Linked DNA regions of Homo sapiens: region 2 is linked to region 1. Evidence: fine-mapped expression QTL. A gene starts in region 1. The other region holds a variant in brackets. All regions are shown on one strand. Distances are from middle to middle. Region 1 holds the start of PLCB4 (phospholipase C beta 4). Region 2 has its middle 48 kb from the start of PLCB4.

What was found. PIP is the estimated chance that this variant, and not a neighbour inherited with it, causes the effect.
Region 2: its variant is the best candidate, but not a certain one, in a credible set for the expression of PLCB4 in fibroblasts (GTEx, PIP 0.74).

What each region holds. Positions count from the first base shown.
Region 1 is chr20:9,065,349-9,074,596 of GRCh38, reverse strand. PLCB4 (phospholipase C beta 4) reads right to left here and starts at 5,510. Exons shown (of 40, transcript NM_001377142.1): 1 at 5,391-5,510.
Region 2 is chr20:9,016,205-9,025,452 of GRCh38, reverse strand. No RefSeq gene overlaps it. Among named protein-coding and RNA genes, the nearest start is that of PLCB4, 48 kb to the left of the region's middle. The variant G/A (reference allele first, on the strand shown) is at 5,321.

The sequences.
Region 1 (9,248 bases):
CTTTCTGTACTTGCAGAGTGGCAAAGTAAGTGTCCCTTGTAAATTTTATAGGAATTTTCTCAGGCTGCTTTGTATGGATAAGGTCAATGCCATCTACCCCTATGAAAGAGAACAAGATGAGAGCCATAATACTAGTAGTACCATTAGGAGAAGGGGCAGTAGCACTTGTTAAACATGCTTTTAATTGTTCAGGAGCATAAGAAAGGCAATGTATCTTAAAGTAATGATTTTCCTGGCCCAAGGGTGTTTCCGTAGCTACAGGTGGAATTTCCCAAACCTGGGCACACCCAAAGATCCTGGGATCCTTTGAGCACCTGTAGTAGCAGCAGTAACAGTACCCTGTATCATTCACAGTGCAGCACCAAGCACTTTTGCCCCATAGGGTTATTCTCCTCATTTTACAGATAGGGCAACTGAGGCTCAGAGTGAATGCCCAGGGTCACACAGCTAAAAGAGGGCATCTGTCAGCATTCAAGCTAAAACAGGGCATTTGTCAGGAATTCAGTGCCTGATTCCAACGCCTGAAGATCTCAGCAACCACTGCTCAATGCAAACCCACAGTGAAAACACCCACCCAGCCAGCTGCCTCTGGGAGGAAGCATTTCTCGAGCACATGGTCTTCGCCTTGTGTGGGTCATGAATGCCCTTCGCAATATGGTAAATCTTAAAGACCCTTTTCAGCAGGATATTTTCATTTTATTATTATTTTTTAATAGACTGTCACTCTGTCACCCAGGCTAGAGTGCACTGATGCGATCTCAGCTTACTATAACCTTGAACTCTTGGGCTTGAGCGATCCTCCTGCCTCAGCCTTCCAAGTAGCTAGGATTACAGGCATGTGCACCACACTCAGCTAATTTTTTTATTGGTATTTTTTGCATAAATTGATCTTACTGTGTTACCTAGGCTGGTCTCAAACTCCTGGCCTCAAGTAATCCTCCTACCTCAGCCTTCCAAAGTGCTGGCATTAGAGGTGTGAGCCAGCATGCCTGGCCCAGCATAATATGTTTAAATATATAAAATTAAATACCTAAAAGTACAATGGAAATCAATCTCATTGAAATATAATTATCAAAATAACTCTTTAAAGGGATATGTGAAGTAATACATGTGTTTCTCTTCAACCCACTAAATGCCAAGATCTAGTAGTAGCCCTAACACCTGCCCCAATTGTCACTTGGAAGTAAGTGAATATAAAGATGTAATTCATTTGCCAGCCACATTCGTGGACCCACCAAACTGCATCCTTGGCCCTAAAATGAAGAACTCCTGTTCTAGAGAAGAAAGGGAGATGTCAAATGTAAAATCAGGGGTCTGTGGTCTGTGGTCTCTGATCTCTGGATGAGCTGCTTACAATTAATTACTTCAAGTTGCTTTTTTCTTCCTGTTTCTAAGGAAATGGCTACTTCAATTCACTCATGTCTGGGAGCCAAAGACATGCTTTAATTGTTCGGGAGGACAAGAAGGGCAATGTATCTTAAAGCCATGATTTGCCTGGCCCAAGGGTATTTCCGTAGCTAGAGGTGGAATTTCCCAGCCCTAGGCATACCAAAAGATCCTTTGAGCTTTGAAGGAGAATCCCAGGAAAGGGGAGAAGATAACACTATCTTATGGTCACATGGTGTGTGACATTCTCATTGAAGGTTTTATAAGTAGTGAGTAAGAGAGGTGTTCAGAGAAAAACCTTGGATTTATGTCCATTTCAACTATTTTTATTTGATAAAGGAAAGGAAAAGTAGACGAAGTGCATGCAGGGAAAATAAACACTCTGCTGGTCATTCATTCCCTGGAACATAAGGATCTCCTAGCTGAGATTTGAAAGGTACAGCATTATTACTTTCATCTCCTCTAGAAACTTGGGTTACGCCTTCAGCATAAAAAAGCATCCAAAGTCGTGAGCTTCCACCCAGACTCTTTCTACCCTTCCACCCAGAAAATGGGGTTTGGGAGTGGTTGCTGCAAAGGAGTGAAGTGGGCCTTGCAAATAAAAGTTATTCCAGGGTGATATTTTCAAAGCAAGCTTAATTCCAACCAAGACAATGTAAACATCACACTCATCCACTCAGTAATGCATAATCACCCAGGTCTGCCTCCACTGGCAAGGAAGTAAACTCATTTTTATACTTGGTTAGCTAAAGAATCACAGCCTAGGAACATGTAAAACCTTTATATCATTCTAAGGCATAACTAGATAAATAATATTACAATTTGAGAAAGTATTTCTACTTTAAAGGGTGAGGCTTTATCAAAAGCAAAACTATTAAACAAACAAATACTAAGGAATAGAAGAAAGAGCTACACAAGTTTATTCATTTTCCCAATATGAGAGGGAAATAGGAAAATGTGGAATGGACAGCACTGAGAATTAAGCAGTGTCCTTGCAAACACAGTTCACATCTGAAAACCAACAGCAAAACCACAGAAAGTCACTGCTGCCTCCCACCAGCGATGAAAAGCTGTATTTATTTCCCAACAGGCAGATAAGTCTCCTTGACAGACACTAATATGGCCTACACATTCATATATTATGAGGTGAAAAGCAACTATTTTAAAAACTTCAATCTGGACATAAAATACCAACTGTGATCATTAAAGCATCTCCATTAGTCCTTGACCTAATTTTGCATATCAAATACAGAAGTTCTTGGTTTTACAGGGACTCAACTGTGGTAGATAGACAGTTTATTAAAAGACCTGGGTCGGCGGTGCTAATCAACATGCTGTTTCACCCTTACTTTATAAGTGATCACAAACAAAAATTTAGTCACAGCCTGCTAAATAATTTTAAGTTTCAAAGAAAATTTATACTTCCTCAAAAATAGTTTACTATTAAGTGTGGAGAGCATGAGAAATCCAAAATCTTTCTTACATTACCTAAGTGCTCTAATCCGAAAAGATAAAATTTACTCTCAAGATTTCAAAATAAAAAATCAAACTCAGCTAATTACTAATTTTTTTTAATAATCTGCAAAATTTTTTCATTAATTCTGTTATTTGAGTTTTCCAGCTACATCTGAAAAACTGGGGATGAAAATTCAGACACTAAACTCAGAAGCTAATTTCACTTATATTGTTACATCCTTTCACAAATTAGCATGCTAATGTGATCACAAGGAAAACAGCACAGCAGCCCTGAAGCTCACTTTTACCTCAATTTTACTTAGAGGGTGAGGTAAAGATGAATACCAGGCAAACATTTCAATTCTTAATAAATCAAACCCCAAAATGAAGTTAGTGGTATCTTAGGAAAATACCATGTTTACTGAAATTGCCAAATATAACTGTCCCATGTTGCCAAAGTCAGCAGTATACATTAATCTAAAGACAGTTGTGTGTAATCTTGGGAAAGGCAAACTAGCTGTGCTACGGGCACTGAATGGACTCTGCTGTGGTTGAAATATTTCAGAGGTGATACAAATTTTTAAAATCTTTTCCTGCAAAAGGTTTTTGGTAACCTGTAACACTTTTTCAACTACCATATTTCTTTATCTCATAAGGCAAAAACACACCGCCTCACGATTCCAGGACATGTAAGCAGTTTAACATCACTCACATTTTCAGGCATATAAATATAAAACTTCCAATAGAGTATTTTAGAACAAAGCTTTCTGCGTGGGTATGCATTTGCAAAATAAAGGTAGAGTTATTCCGACAGATTTAAATGTGCACCCAGTGATCAAATGGAGTTAGAAATTCTGTTTTGACAGTTACTTGTAGAACAGCATTTTCAACAGCGATTAATTCAGAGCTGGGTAGTAATACCATCAAAACTAAGTTCCAACTGTTGAGTAATAATATAGTTGGAAGGAAGTGTAGTCCATAAGCTAATACATGGTACCTTTAGATATGTTATAATACGTCACATTCAAAAGGTTACTCGTCTGGCAGCAAGTCTTACGTTCATAAAAGTGCCAATAAAAATGTTTTGCCATTTCAAAAAGTGATTTTTTATGAAAACAGGTGCTCTCCAAAGATGGCAATCATTTATTAAACTACTACAGTTCAAAAGGAAGATGATATAATAGATCAATACACCAGCTAAGGATCATGCAAGACTGTCCTATGAAAAACAGCATTCTGGATTACATAACACAGATAGTGAGGGATTACACCACATGCCCCTGCTGAGCTAGACTTTTGATCTTCTGTATGATTCTATAACTGAGGCCACTCAAATTTGAAGAGTATAAAATATGAGGGTCTCAGTTCAACCACACATTTCTGAAAACAGCCGTCTTGAAAACAATAAAAGAATAAAGTTAAAATTTTACCTTCCCCCGCAACACACACACAATTTTTCTATTCTGAAAAACACAGTTGTTCAGATACTTTCTTAACCTCCTTGGAGCCTCCCCAGGTAAAGTCACCAGTTGCTTTTCCTGGTCATGTTTACATTATAAATCTGATTTCTCTTTAAGGGGAAATTCAATATCATTTTAAAATGATACATAGCTGCCTATGTTTGAATAACGTTATTTCCAGACAAAAAGAATTATTAAACAGCTATCTCCACATACCTATAACTTAAATATATAGACCACTAAGTATTACGTATATGGAAAAAAAAACACCTTTCCTGAATATTCTGGCCAAAATTAAATTTCAAATACATGTTTTAGAACAATAGCTAGAATCACTACAGAAGTTAAGAGGAAAAAAAGTTGGAAGAGTAGGGTCATCTTTCAGATATATCCATATTTATGGAAACTATAGTGGGCAGTTGTATTTCTCTCTAGGAAAATGCTAGTTTTATGATTCTAGATAAAGTTGCACTTAAACACACTTGGAAATTAGAGAATTCCATATTTCCATACTTCGATTCAGTACCATATACGAAGTCTACACTCAGAAGTATTGTACTATACAGAGTCTAATTGGTTAAAGCAAAAGCAACTTTAAAATTCTGAAAATAAGGATTTCCTTCACTAACAGGCTTTTAGGAGGCCCGAACCCTGCCCCCAATGAGTGCTAAGCCTGTCAGTGTTGTTTTAAGTGGAAACGGTCAATCATTTCTATGATTTCCCCAGAAGAGGCAAGAAGATCCACACGCATACACATTTACATGCGTTGCACGGTGCCAACTATTTCCAACCAAAATAATCATATACACGTCGAGCCGAGCTATTTCTAGCCCAGAAGAGGGTGAACGTCTGGAGAGAGTCTGAGGAAACCCAGCAGGCGATGACTGCAGGGGAAGGGGGATGGCGTCTGGGTCCCCTGCCTCCCGCGCGCACAGGGCGCCTGGCACCCGGCACCTGCACGGGGTCCCCGCTGGGCATCCGGGTGCGCGCGCGCGCGCGTCCGGGACGCACCCGCGGAAAGCAAACAAGCCCTGAGGGCCAAGGCGGGCGGGAGCATCCTCGGGCGGGACCCGAAATGCCTTTTCCTACCTGTCACTTTGCCTGGAGCTGCTGCCGGGGATGCGGCGACGGCCGCTGCCTGGAGACCCAGTGTGTACGCGCGTGTGTGTGCGCGCCCGTGTGTGCGTGTGCGTGTGTGTGTCTGTGTGTGAGAGATCTTGTTGGCGGTGCAGCTCACTTACTGCTCCCGGCGCGGCGCCACCACCCCCTCCTCGCCATAAAGAGCCGCCGCCAAGCCCCCTCCCGGCGCACCCCAGTCCCGCCCTCCCGCCTGCCTCCGCACCCCCTCCCTGGCCTCCCCGCCTCCCCGTCTCCGCGCCGCGCGGTCCTTACCTCAGTTGAGGGCGGGGGTCTCCGCCGTGGCTCCCCAGCGAGCCCACGGGGCAGCGCCGACCCGCCCGCCCACCGCCGGGCCCTGCGCGTCCCCCGCTCCGGGCCCCGCCGCCCCTCAGCGGCCAGCCGCTTCCTCCTCCCCTGCCCCCGAGCCTCCCTCCTCGTTCTCGCCTCCCGGCTCCAGAGCCCGAGCTGTCGCCTCGCAGCCCCAACCTGCCCAGGCTACGGAGCATGCCCAGTGCGGCGCGCCGGGCTGGGCTGGGGGTGGGCAGGGGCCGGGCCGGCCGCCCAGTTGCCGCGAGCCCGCAGGGCGAGGAGTGGGCGCCGACTGGGTCGGGGGCGCAGCCTCGCGAGCCGGGGGCCGAGCAGCCGAGGCAGGTGGTGGGCAGCGCCAAGAGGAGGTGGGTGGGGCATCCGGGGAAGCCGGCCCGCGGCGCGCTCCTCTGGGGTCTCCCTGGCGGCTCCCCGCGGCATGTGCCCCATGCCCAAGGGTCGGGGGCGCACGGGATGGCGCTGGGCGCAGAACCCAGGGAGCGGGGGCAGAAAAGCGGCACCCTCCTCGGATGGGAGACCCGCAGCCCGCCGTGGGCCGTGTGGAGGGGCTCAGGACTGGCCAGAACGGGGCCCCCAAAGCCGTTGGCTGGGTGGGGGACGTGCTTATTTGTTTATATTCGGTTTCATAAACCCATACAGCGCCTACAATGCGTCCTGCAGTGTTCTAAACGCTTTTTATTCATTTAATCCCTAAAACAATCTTCCAAAGAGTACTACTGCCTCTTTTTATTTCGCGGGTCTTACACAGAGCCACAGAGATTAAGTGGTTCCAAAAAGTCTTCCCACAAGTGCAACCTCAGACATGCAAATCCCCCAGACTTTGGTCCCTGGGATGCTGGGGTGCTGCTCCAGCCAGTTCCTGGCTTTTCCCGGCCCTACAACGGCCCCCAGGTGCCTCCGAGTCACACTCACACCCAGGCCCTAATGGTGTTCGGTCTGGCATCACCCTTGTGTGGACCCTCACAACGTGCTGCTCCCGAACTCCGGAGGGCTCCCTCCTCCCCACTCCGCCTCCTCCTTCTCCCGGCCGGCGGCCACCAAAACCCGGAGACGTGGCACCTGCGCATTGGGGACTGGGGCCATGCTCGCAGCTGCACTAGGCATGCTCAGCCGCCTGAGCCGGTCCGGCTGGCCAGGAGGAAAGAAAGGGCCAGACGGGGCGTGAAGTGTAAGAAATGGAGGGGGAATGTGTGTGCAAACAATAGTCCAGGCTCTGATGGGCAGGGGCAGTTGTAGATGCAAAAGACTCATTCCCCTGGCACATCCTGGCCATTTCCAGGCAGGGCTAAGAGATGGGGGTAATAATCATCAAAAGTTTAACCAACTGGGCATCCTTAAGCAAGAGGGGGCTGAGGCCCCACTGACCACTCCCCAGCTCAACTACTAAGCTGTAATTTTAGCTGAGCCTGGAAAAAAAGCTCCTCAGCAGCTGAAGCTGTCTGCCTGTGAAGAAGCCAAGAAAAATATCCCAGACCAAGTTTCCCCACAAGATTGGAAAGGAAAGATAGATCCCAGGGAAAGGCTGGTGGCTCTTCACTGTTAGGGATATTAAAGATGTGGTGATTTTGGCTGGGCGCGGTGGCTCACGCCTGTAATCCCAGCACTTTGGGAGGCCAAGGCGGGTGGATCATCTGAGGTCAGGCGTTCGAGACCAGCTTGGCCAACATGGTGAAACCTCATCTCTACTAAAAATACAAAAAAAAAAAAAAATTAGCCGGTCGTGGTGGTGGGCACTTGTAATCCCAGCTATTCAGGAGGCTGAGGCAGGAGAATCTCTCGAACACGGGAGGCGGAGGTTGCAGTGAGCTGAGATAGCCCCACTGCACTCCGCCCTGGGCGACAAAAGCAAAACTCCATCTCAAAGAAAAAAAAAGGGATCTGGTGATTTTGAGTGATTCCAGCATGATAAGGCAGTGTGTAATGGGCATACAAGTTGCCTGAGGATCTTGTTAAACTCCAGATTTTGATTCAGCAGATCTGGGGTGGGATCAGAGATTCTGCATTTCTAACAAGTTCCCACACCATGCTGATGTTGCTGTCTTTAGATAGATTTTTAGTTGCAAGAGGTTAGGGCAGTATTTTAGGCCTGTTCTTTATTTTATATGTATAAGAAAACCAAGGTTCAAAAAGGTTAAGCAATTTGCCCCCAGGTCACACGGCCAAGAAGTAGCATCACTAGGCTCAAACCCAGTTCTCCAGGGCTTCCTGTGTATGTTCCTCTATTCCCCAGGTATCACTCACAGACAGATGAGCTGAAGCTGTGTGTCTTGACAGTTTTTAACAATAGAACATAGTATTAGTAGATAATGCACCCAAACACACTATATCAGTTAGCCTTTAGTGTGTAACAAACCACACCAACACATAGTAGCCTAAAGCAACAATTATTCATTAGCTCACAATTCTGTGAATCAGTAACTGGAGCTAAAATCAGCTGAGCAGTGTTGTTCTCCTGGGCCTACTCATGCAGCTGCAGACATGCGGAGCTTGGAGCCTCATCCGGATGGCAAGGATGACAGGGTATTCCCATATGGCTTCTTCGTATGGTGAGTTCCTAGTTCCCAGCAGCAAAAGAAGGAAAGCCCCAATTCAAAATAGCATTTTATACCTCTGCTTGCTAATGTTCTACTGGCCAAAGCAAGCCACATGGCCATGCCCAGATTCAAAACATGGAGAAATCAACTTCAATTTTAATAAAAGGAGACACAAAATAGAGTAGTATTTTGTTTTTAAAATCTACCACACACATCAGAGTCCATAAAACTAGCCCTCCTGCCTTAGAGTTCAAAGTTGTATAGATTAAGCCTATCTTTCATTTTATATATTGGTAAACCAAGTCACAGTAATCTTTGTTGTTACTGTTAAGTCTTCAATCTAATAATATGTTTATTAAGGAATCTCAACTCAGGTATAAACATTAAATAATTTTTTTCTCTAAATCCTAAATTCAATCCAAATTCTCAATTCCCTTACCCTGCCTTTGATGACATGTTAGATGGTCATTCATTCCACATTTTTTTTTTTTGAGACAGGGTCTCGCTTTGTTGCCCAGGATGGAGTGCAGTGGCATCATCACGGCAACCTCAAACCCAGGGGCTCAAGTGATCCTCCCACCTCAGCACTCCCAGTAGCTTGGACTACAAGTGTGCGCTACCACACTTTGCTAAATTTTTTTATTTTATTTTTTTGTAGAGACAGAGTCTCACTATGTTGCCCAGGCTGGTTGTGAACTCCTGGGTTCACATGATCCTCTTGCCTCAGCCTCCCAAAGTACTCAGATTACAGGTTTGAGCCAAAGGATTGAGCTTGGATTACAGGTTTGTGCCTGGCCCATTGAACAAATTTTTTGAAACCTTCTATGTGCCAGGCACTACTCTTTGGCCAGGATACTAAAATAAGCAAGAGACAAAAATAATTGCCCCTAAGAAACTTAGATACTATCACAGGAGATAGACAATAGCATATTAAAAATATAGAACATTGGGCCAAGTGTGGTGGTTC
Region 2 (9,248 bases), 49 kb after region 1:
CATGGAATCGGAAGAATTGGGTTTCATACTAGATTTGTTATTGACTAGCTGTGTGATCTTAGTCAAGTCACTATTTCCTTGAGCTTTGGTTTCCTCACCTATAAAAGAGGGAATTGGAGTAGAGGAACCCTCCATGTCTGTCAGCACTATCCAACAGAACTGCCTGTGATGTTGGAAATGCTCCGCCTCTGGGCTGTTCATCATGGAAGCCAGTTGCCAATGAGACTGTTGAAATGTGGTTTGTGTGATTGGAAAATGGTATCTGGGCGGGGCCCAGTGGCTCACGCCTGTACTCTCAGCACTTTGGGACGCCAAGGCAGGCGGACCACTTGAGGTCTGGAGTTTGAGACCCACCTGACCAACATGGTGAAACCCCATCTCTACCAAAAGTATAAAAATTAGCCAGGCATGGTGGTGCATGCCTGTAATCCCAGCTACTCAAGAGGCTGAGGCAGGAGAATCGCTTGAACCCAGGAGGCGGAGGTTGCAGTGAGCCAAGATCACGTCACTGCATTCCAGACTGGGTGACAGAGCAAGACTCCATCTCAAATAAAAAAGAAAAAAAGAAAAATAGTATTTCAATTCTACTTAATTTTAACTAATTTAAGTTTAAGTAGTCATATGTGACTAGTACTACTAACTTGGGCAGTACAACTGTAGATTTTAAGCCCCGTAAAAGCAAAAAGCCCTGTCTGTTTTGCTAATTATCTAGTTGCAGGGTCAAAGTCTAGACAGTAACTGGTGGAGTGTTTCACACATTGCAAGATTCCATTACATATTCCTCTGGCCACTAATATGCCAGGCACTGTTCTAGGCACTGGGCATCAACTTGCAAACACAACAGGTGCAAACCACTGTTCTCATGGCACTTATATTCTACTGGGGAACATACACAATTAAACATATATATGAGTAAAATATTCAGTACTGTATATTGAATGGTGATAAGAATTAAAGGAGAAAAATAATCAGAAGAATGATAGGGAGTGTGAGTGCTAGGGCAGGGGGATTATTATTTAAATAGATCAGGCAATGAGAAGGTGACATTCCAGTAAAGACTTGCCTGAGGCATGGGAGCTAGCCATGCTGGGAGGAAATATTGTTCCAGGCAAAGGTCCCAAGGTGAGATTATGCCTGGAGAGTTCCAGAAACAGCAAGAGGCCAGTGTTGGAGGGAACAAGGGGAGTTACGTTAGGTAAAGAGTTTAAAAGTTGGGCTGGTGCAGTGGCTCGTGCCTGTAATCCCAGCACTTTCAGAGGCTCAGGTGGGGAGATCACGTGAGGTCATGGGTTTGAGATCAGCCTGGCCAACATGGTGAAACCCCATCTCTACTAAAAATACAAAAATTATCCAAGTATGGTGGTGTACCCCTGTAATCCCAGCTACTTGGGAGGCTGAGGCATGAGAATCCCTTGAACCCAGGAGGCAGAGGTTGCAGTGAGCCAAGATAGTGCTATTGCATTCCAGCCTGGGTGACAGAGTGAGACTCTGTCTCAAAAAAAAAAAAAGGGTAACTTAGTATACCTGTGTTGAGGAGGGAAGGGGAACATGTAGGGCTTGGGAAGCTTTTGTTTTTTTAAAACCTCTGGCTTTACTTTGAGTGAAATGGGGTTCACTGGAGGGTTTTGAACAGAGGACTGTGATATATCTGATTTGTGGAGGTTTTTTTCAAATTTTTTAATTTTAATTTTAATTTTTATTTATTTATTTATTTATTTTTTTGAGATGGTGTCTTGCTCTGTCACCCAGGCTAGAGTGCAGTAGTGCCATCTCGGCTCACTGCAAACTCCACCTCCTGGGTTCAAGTGATTCTCCTGCTTCAGCCTCCCAAGTAGCTGGGATTACAGGCGCCTACCACTGCACCCAGCTAATTTTTGTATTTTTAGTAGAGACGGGGTTTCACCATCTTGGCCAGGCTGGTCTTGAACTCCTGACCTCATGATCCCCCTGCCTTGGCTTCCCAAAGTGCGGGGATTACAGGTGTGAGCCACAGCACCCAGCCCCACCCCTCTCTTTTTTCTTTTTTAAGAGACAGAGTCTCACATGTCACCCTGGCTGGAGTGCAGTGGTATGATGTTGATTGCACTCTTGAACTCCCAGGCTCAAGTGATCCTCCTGCCTCAGCCTCCTGAGTAGATGGGACCACAGGTGTGCGCCACCACACCCGGAAAGTTTTTTTTATTTTTTGTATTGATGGGGTCTCCCTGTGTTGCTACACAGGGAGTAACTCCTAGGCTCAAGCAATCCTCCTGACTCTGCCTCCCAAAGTGCTGTGATTATAGGTGTGAGCCACCACACTTGGCCTGATTTGTGTTTTCGAGGGATCACTCTTGCTGCCCCCTTAAGAATGTTGTGGGCCAAGGATGGATATCATAGGGCCATGCAGAGAGATATTCTAACAGTGCAGGCAAGAGATCGTGCTGACTGGGACCATGAGAACAGTGAAGGTGGTGAGAATGATGAAGTTCTGGTTTTAAAGGGAATGCCAACCACATTAGCTAACAGATTGGCCATGGACTGTGAGGTAAAGAGATCAGGCAAAGATGACCACAGTTACTTTGGCCAGGGCAACTAGAAGAATGGAGTTGCTATTCACTAGGGTGGACAGGACTGTGGATGGAGCAGGTTCAGGGAGCAGACCAAGAGTTTCATTTGGCATTTATTATGTCCAAATCTGGAATGCAGAATGAACATGCTCTCTGGAGCTTCCAGCTGCACTGATACAGGAGTCTGCCATTGTAGCAGCCTGTACTGGCTGCCCACCCTAATGGATCCTTAATGGGATCTTAATGGGACCCCAGAGAAGCATGATGTTCTGAAGCTTGCTCTACTGCTCTGTCAAGATGTGGAGAATCTCCCTAGCTACCTCCTTTCCTTCCTGAACCCTCAGCTGTCTATGACTGCCCATATCCCAAAGGGCAGAACATCCAGCTGCACTGGCCGCTGTTCATTCTGCCTAAAGGAAGCTGTCTAGACAAAGTCTTTCACTCCTTGCTAATACAGTTTTTTTTTTTAAATTAATTTTAAGGTGGTGAATAGACGATATTGTGTTTGTTCCCAAAGGTACTTACCTTCCACAACTAGAAAGCATTATTCAATTTTAGCACAAAGAAATGTTTAGAATGTTTATCCTGGGGACAAAATATTGCCTTATTAGAACATTTAAAACTAAATTTGTCTTTGTTTTACATAACTTTGTTTAAAACCAGAAAGATATGACATAGAAAATAAATGCAATTAACTTTGAAATGCACAGACATTGGGGTCAAGAAATAACTGACAGCTTTTTATATATACATATATTCCCATCAGCCCTGGAAAGGATTTTCTAGGTTTTGGAATCTTTCATTTACGAAAATCTAGAAGTCTGGCATTTGCTTATTCTTGGAGAGGTGCCAAGAAAGTGAGATGTTTGTCATCTGATAGGACAGAAGGCCTCTTTGATTTCTTGGGAGAGCACAAACTTGGAGAAAGTGAAGCCTGTGGAAAGGTAACTGGAAAGGAAAGCCCCATAGAATGCATACAGGTCTGCCAAGCTTTCTCCTGGGGAAGGATTTGCAGAACAGAGACTGCATTGTTAGTCCACAAGTTACCCAAGACATCTCCCTATTCCTCCCTGCTGAGTTCCTGACTAGGACCTAATTTAAAACCCAGAGATTTGCTTCTGGGTCCTAAATGTGCCCATGTTTCTTCTGTCATGAGCAACGACTCAGGCTAGCTGTTTGCTTCTCTCACGTGGCCTCTCTGTATCCATGCTAGCCCGTAATTCCCATATCCCCCCTAAAGACTTCCTATGGAAAGGGTTTGTTTATCTGCCCATGAAGAGGAGCCCTCATTTTAAGCAATCTGTGTCCACTGGTGTATCCATTTTCACTCCCAATTGGCACTGTTGGTTCTCCACTCGTATCCTGTTTACTGTCCTGCACCCTCATCCTTCAGCTGCCACGAGAGCTGCAGCTAATGGCTCACAGTTGCACCCTTCCCTGGAGAATTGCCCTTGACTGATGGGAGTCACCTGGTCTGGAGATGCCTGGCAGGTTAACTCTCCCATGACCAAGTGGCTGTGACTAATAAGTAAGAGGGCACAAAAGCCTGGTCTCTTTGACCCAGTACCAGACAACTTTGCTATGCAATTTGTGCTCCAGAGCACCCCCACACCGATCAGGTTGAGGCTACCATTCTTGAGGCCTCACCCTTGCTTGGTTCCTTCCAATTCTGTATTCTACTTCCTTCTCTCTCCCATAGGTCTTCTGAACGTACCTCCTTAATAAATTATGTGCACACACATCCTTGGTTCAGGCTCTGCTTCTAGAAAACCCAAGACAATGGTCTCCTGATCCCAGAGTGAGGAGTACATAGTATACTGTCTTATCTTGGGAGAAAAAAAAAAAAAGCCCTGCTATTTTTGGTGCTATCAAACAGATTCCCTTGAGGTATACAAACACAACATGTAGTGAGCCTGTAGAAGACCATTGACAACTGTCTGTTGTCCCTCAAAGAGATGCTTGCTGGTGTTTGGCACTCACCTGAATATGACAGATTGCTGCAAGGCTGAATTTGTGGATAAATACTACCTAACTATGACTACAACATGAGTGAGTAACAGACATGGCAATTACAAGGATTTGATAAAAGATGATTTTAACCTGCAGAAGTGTCAATTGTTTTGAGTGTCTACTGAGTTTCTTCATGACGCTCTATTTTTTAACTAAGTCAAAAATTATTTGGGTGGAGTTCTCCAAAGACAACCTAATACCTTTTTTCCCTCAAAGTATGGTTCATGGACCAGTAGCATCAGCATCACCTGGGAGCTCATTAGAAATGCAGAATCTTGGCTGCATGGCTTATGCCTGTAATCCCAGCACTTCGGGAGGCCGAGTTGAGTGGATCACTTGCGGTCAGAAGATTGAGGCATGCCTGGCCAACATAGTGAAACCCCGTCTCTACTAAAAATATAAAAATTAGCTAGGAGTGATGGTGCGTGCCTGTAATCCCAGCTAATCAGGAGGCTGAGGCAGGGAGAATTGTTTGAACCTGGGAGGCTAAGGTTGTGGTGAACCAAGATCGCGCCACTGCACTCCAGCCTGGGTGACAGAATGAGACTCTGTCTCAAAAAAAAAAAAAAAAAAAAAAAAATTGCAGAATCCTGTGGACCCCAACCCAGACTGGCTGAATTAGAATTTGCAACAAGATCTCCTAGGAGATTCTTATGCATGTGAAAGTTTGAGAACACTAGCTCAAAGACATTCTATTGGTGAGTTCTGCTTGGTTATAATAACTGTGCAAAAATTTGAAAGTGATAGAATTCACAACAACTATA[G/A]CTCATGGTAGAATAACAACTCAGTCATCTAGAGATCAATGATTCTGTAGCTTGAACCACCCAGGACACAGGCTAGCACTGAGGGTGTTATGCAAAAGATCTCTGAGAAACCAAAATAGATGTCACAAAGACCACAAACCAAAACTCACTTGTCTTAGAGGAAATCTCCTTAGACTCTCTCTTAGTTGACATTTATTTTTAGCTGTGTGTTCAGTCTAATAAGATTAGTTATCTGGTTTGAAAGCCTTCTGGAAATTTGAAAGAGCAATTAAAAGGAGAAAAGTGATCTCCTGGAGTTCTCAAAATATAATCTTGGGACCAGGGGCATCAGCATGCGCTGAGGACTTGCTAGAAATGCAAAGATTGGGTCTACCCCTGACCTAGTGAAATAGAAATGTGGGGGTGTGATCCAGCCACCTGTGGTTCAACAAGCCTCTCAGGTGATTCTGATGCATGCTCAAATTTTGTTTCCATTGTCCTGGAGGAAGCGAAGAGTGAAACTGATGACAAGGGAAGAGATGGGGAAAACAAATAAAGAGAGGAACTGAACAGGCTGGGAAGTCTTAGGATCATTTTGGTTTGGTTAAGGGGGTGAGCTAGGGCAGATTTTAGTAGGCAGAGGGTCGTGAAACAATTGCATGGCTGGGGTATTTATTTTTGAAGTAAGACAGAGAAAATGCTAGAAACGCTGTGAGGAAGTCATTGCAGGCTATTCAAGGAGTTTGGCTTTTGTACTCCCAAGTACTGTGGAGTCTTAATCTTTAAGTGGTAGAGTAACCTGATTAAAAAAGAAAAAAAAAGTTTTGTAGCTTACAGGAAGAGGATTTCATTATTTAAAGATTATCCAGTGATGCTGAATAAATGCAGCACTATTATATTCAGTTAAACCAGGAACAATGTCATGTAGATAACCCTGAAGTCACTGACACAAGGCTCTTCTGTAATAGGATCTAGTTGTACCCGTTATGATGTACTTGAGACTTGGAGATAGAAATCTTCACAGAAAATGGAAACAGTCATGTTAACATTTCAGGGCACCTTTCCTTGTTATATAACATAACTGTATCTCTCTTCAAAACACTTTCTTTCTATATTGTTCTAACAATATTTCCATAATGTCAATTTTGGTTTCCCATTTTCCCTTCATATCTTTGTGCTTTTAGCCAGTTATATAAGCCATAGTCAGCTTCTAGTTTGCAATTGATTTTTGAGTAGATACAAAAATTAAAAAAAAATATGAAACCACGACTTTAATATTTGTACAAACCATAATGTAATTCAGCCTATGTTATATACTGACTCATTACTAGTTATAATTTTCTTTTGCTTTCTTAAATTTTTCTTGTTTATTTTTGATGAATTATGTAGACTGACACAAAATTGCACACCATGTTGCTCTGCCAGATCTGTAGCTGGGTGATAATGCTAAAACAAAAGGTCTAAAATGTCCTTTAGAGTGGAGAAATACAGAGGGTACATTAAAATACATTGTTCCGTGAGCATTATTCAGAAGCAGCACTGCTTGGTGTTTTGTTTAAATTATCAAAGAGTTAAAAAACAAAACAAAACTGGATGATGTCTTGGTGGCTTCAGGAAGTTCATGTGTCTCCTTTAAACCCCAGCATCAAAAGAAATAACATTATGTTAAGACACATGTTAATTCAGGGTAGACTGCTTCCAGGATAAAGGAACACTTACCCTGCCTGAATGGAAGAGCCTGTACTTTTGCACTTAACTAAATACAGCTCTTGGGGTGTGTAAGTACCTTGATACCACTAACCTAATACAGAGAGATGCCAGCTCTAATGACTAGCACGGTTTCAATGTATTTTAGTTCTCTTTGATACGGATCTTCTTGAAACAGAAAAGAAAGTCATGGGTTGCTTCAAAAAGCATTCCTGAAACATTGACAAAATGTTCTCTGCAGTTTTACTATCAATGGTGGTCTTTCATTTATTGCAAAATAGGACACCTACTTATGCAACTGAAACAAATGAAAAACACATTACTGGATTTTTTTTTTTTTTTTTTTTAGTGGTTATATAACCTTTCAGAGATAAGCAAACCGTACTTTTTATATGAGGATACATAGAGACATGATGGATGTTCGTTTCATAATGATGTAAAAAATAATATTTATATGAGCGATGTTGGGGCAGAATAGCTTTGTAGGGGAAAATATGTATACATTTTTATATAGTACCTGGGTTTTGGCCTTATGGGTTGATGCAGTGTCAAAATTCCCAAAGATTTTGAATACCTCTCTCATGGGTATAACACACACACATATACATATTCCTAGATGAATTACACATCTAAAAGTGCTATGTTCTAAAAATAAGGAGGAGCCAGGTGCAGTGGCTCATGCCTGTGATCCCAGCACTTTGAGAGGCTGAGGCGGGTGGATCACTTGATGTCAGGAGTTCGAGACCAGCTTGGCCAACATGGTGAAACCCTGTCTTTAGTACAAATACAAAAACTAGCCAGGTGAGTTTGTGGGCACCTGTAATCCCAGCCTCTCGGGAGGCTGAGGCAGGAGAACTGCTTGAACTTGGGAGGCAGACATTGCAGTGAGCCAAGATCATGCCACTTCACTCCAGCCTGGGTGACAGAGTGAGAATCTGTCTCAAAAAAATAAAAAATAAAAATAAAAATAAAGAGGAGAAAAAGGTACAGTCATTTTATAATCTACCATTCCCATATTCCTCCAAAATGAGAAAATAATAGCTGCTAATTTTATTAAATCCAATTTAAAGTATTAATTATTATTAATTATAAACTATTATAATAATAGGCACATATACTCAAGGTGGTTTTAAAATTTCTTAATTGGAAGAGAAGTGCCTCATTCATATGCTGCTTTCTTTATCTGGACTCTTTCACTTCTCCAAAACCTGCAACCCCTTAGTTTTGCCTCAACAGGTTAAAGTCTTATTTTACCGGGATCTCTGATTGGAAGTCACCACCTTTAAGAAGGCTTCTGTGATTTCCTTCCACCAAAAAGTCTGAATCAGTAGCTTCTTTTTTGTATGCCCGTGATGCCTCCCCATCTTAACACTTATAACTCTGTATTTAAATTCCCAGCTTTCCTGTCTCCTTGGGAGACTGAATCCTTTTAAGAATTGGAAGGAAGGCTTGTTTGCTGTGATGTCCTTAGGGCTGAGTACAGTTGTTGAAGAAGGATTTAATTGTCAAATGAGTGAATGCCTGTATTTTCAGAACTTTTTATGCTCTGGTTAGTATGTCCAACCATCAAAAAAGATCCATAATCCAAAAAAGTCCATAATGCCACTGAATGTGGCAGTTCATAACATTTGACTCATCTTTTCCATAGATTTACAATTAAAACTTCGGCCATACACATGTAGTGGTTAACAGACTCTGGAGCCAGAATGCTGGGGTTCAAACCACAGCTCTGAGAGACATTGGAAAATTTGCTTAAACTCTCCATTACTTGTTTTCTCATTAGTAGAAGATTTAATTAATTCATGTGTATGCAGCAATTTGAACAGTGCCTGGGAGATAGTAAGTTTGCCTAAGTTTGTTATTTTAATATTATTATTTTATTAATATTTGTAAAATAACCCAGTGACTAATATGATATTTGGCTATATTTTGACAAACCAGTTCTCTAAATATATACATTTATTTTCTTGCCCATTTTTATCTATCAATTGGGATGAAAAATACAAACGCTGAAGTCAAATAAAGATATGATAATATTTCCACTTTCTCTCTTCCAAAGGTATTTTTTCTTAATTTTCCACAATCATAAAATGTAAGCCCTCTCTTGCAATCCTCTTTGCACTGAAAATAATCTCATGCTTTGACATAATTTGAGATTCAAACTTGACATGAGTTCCACTTTCATTTTCCAGTGCCAGAGTACTGCGGGCTATGATGAAAGAAGGCATTCCATGTGCCAAAT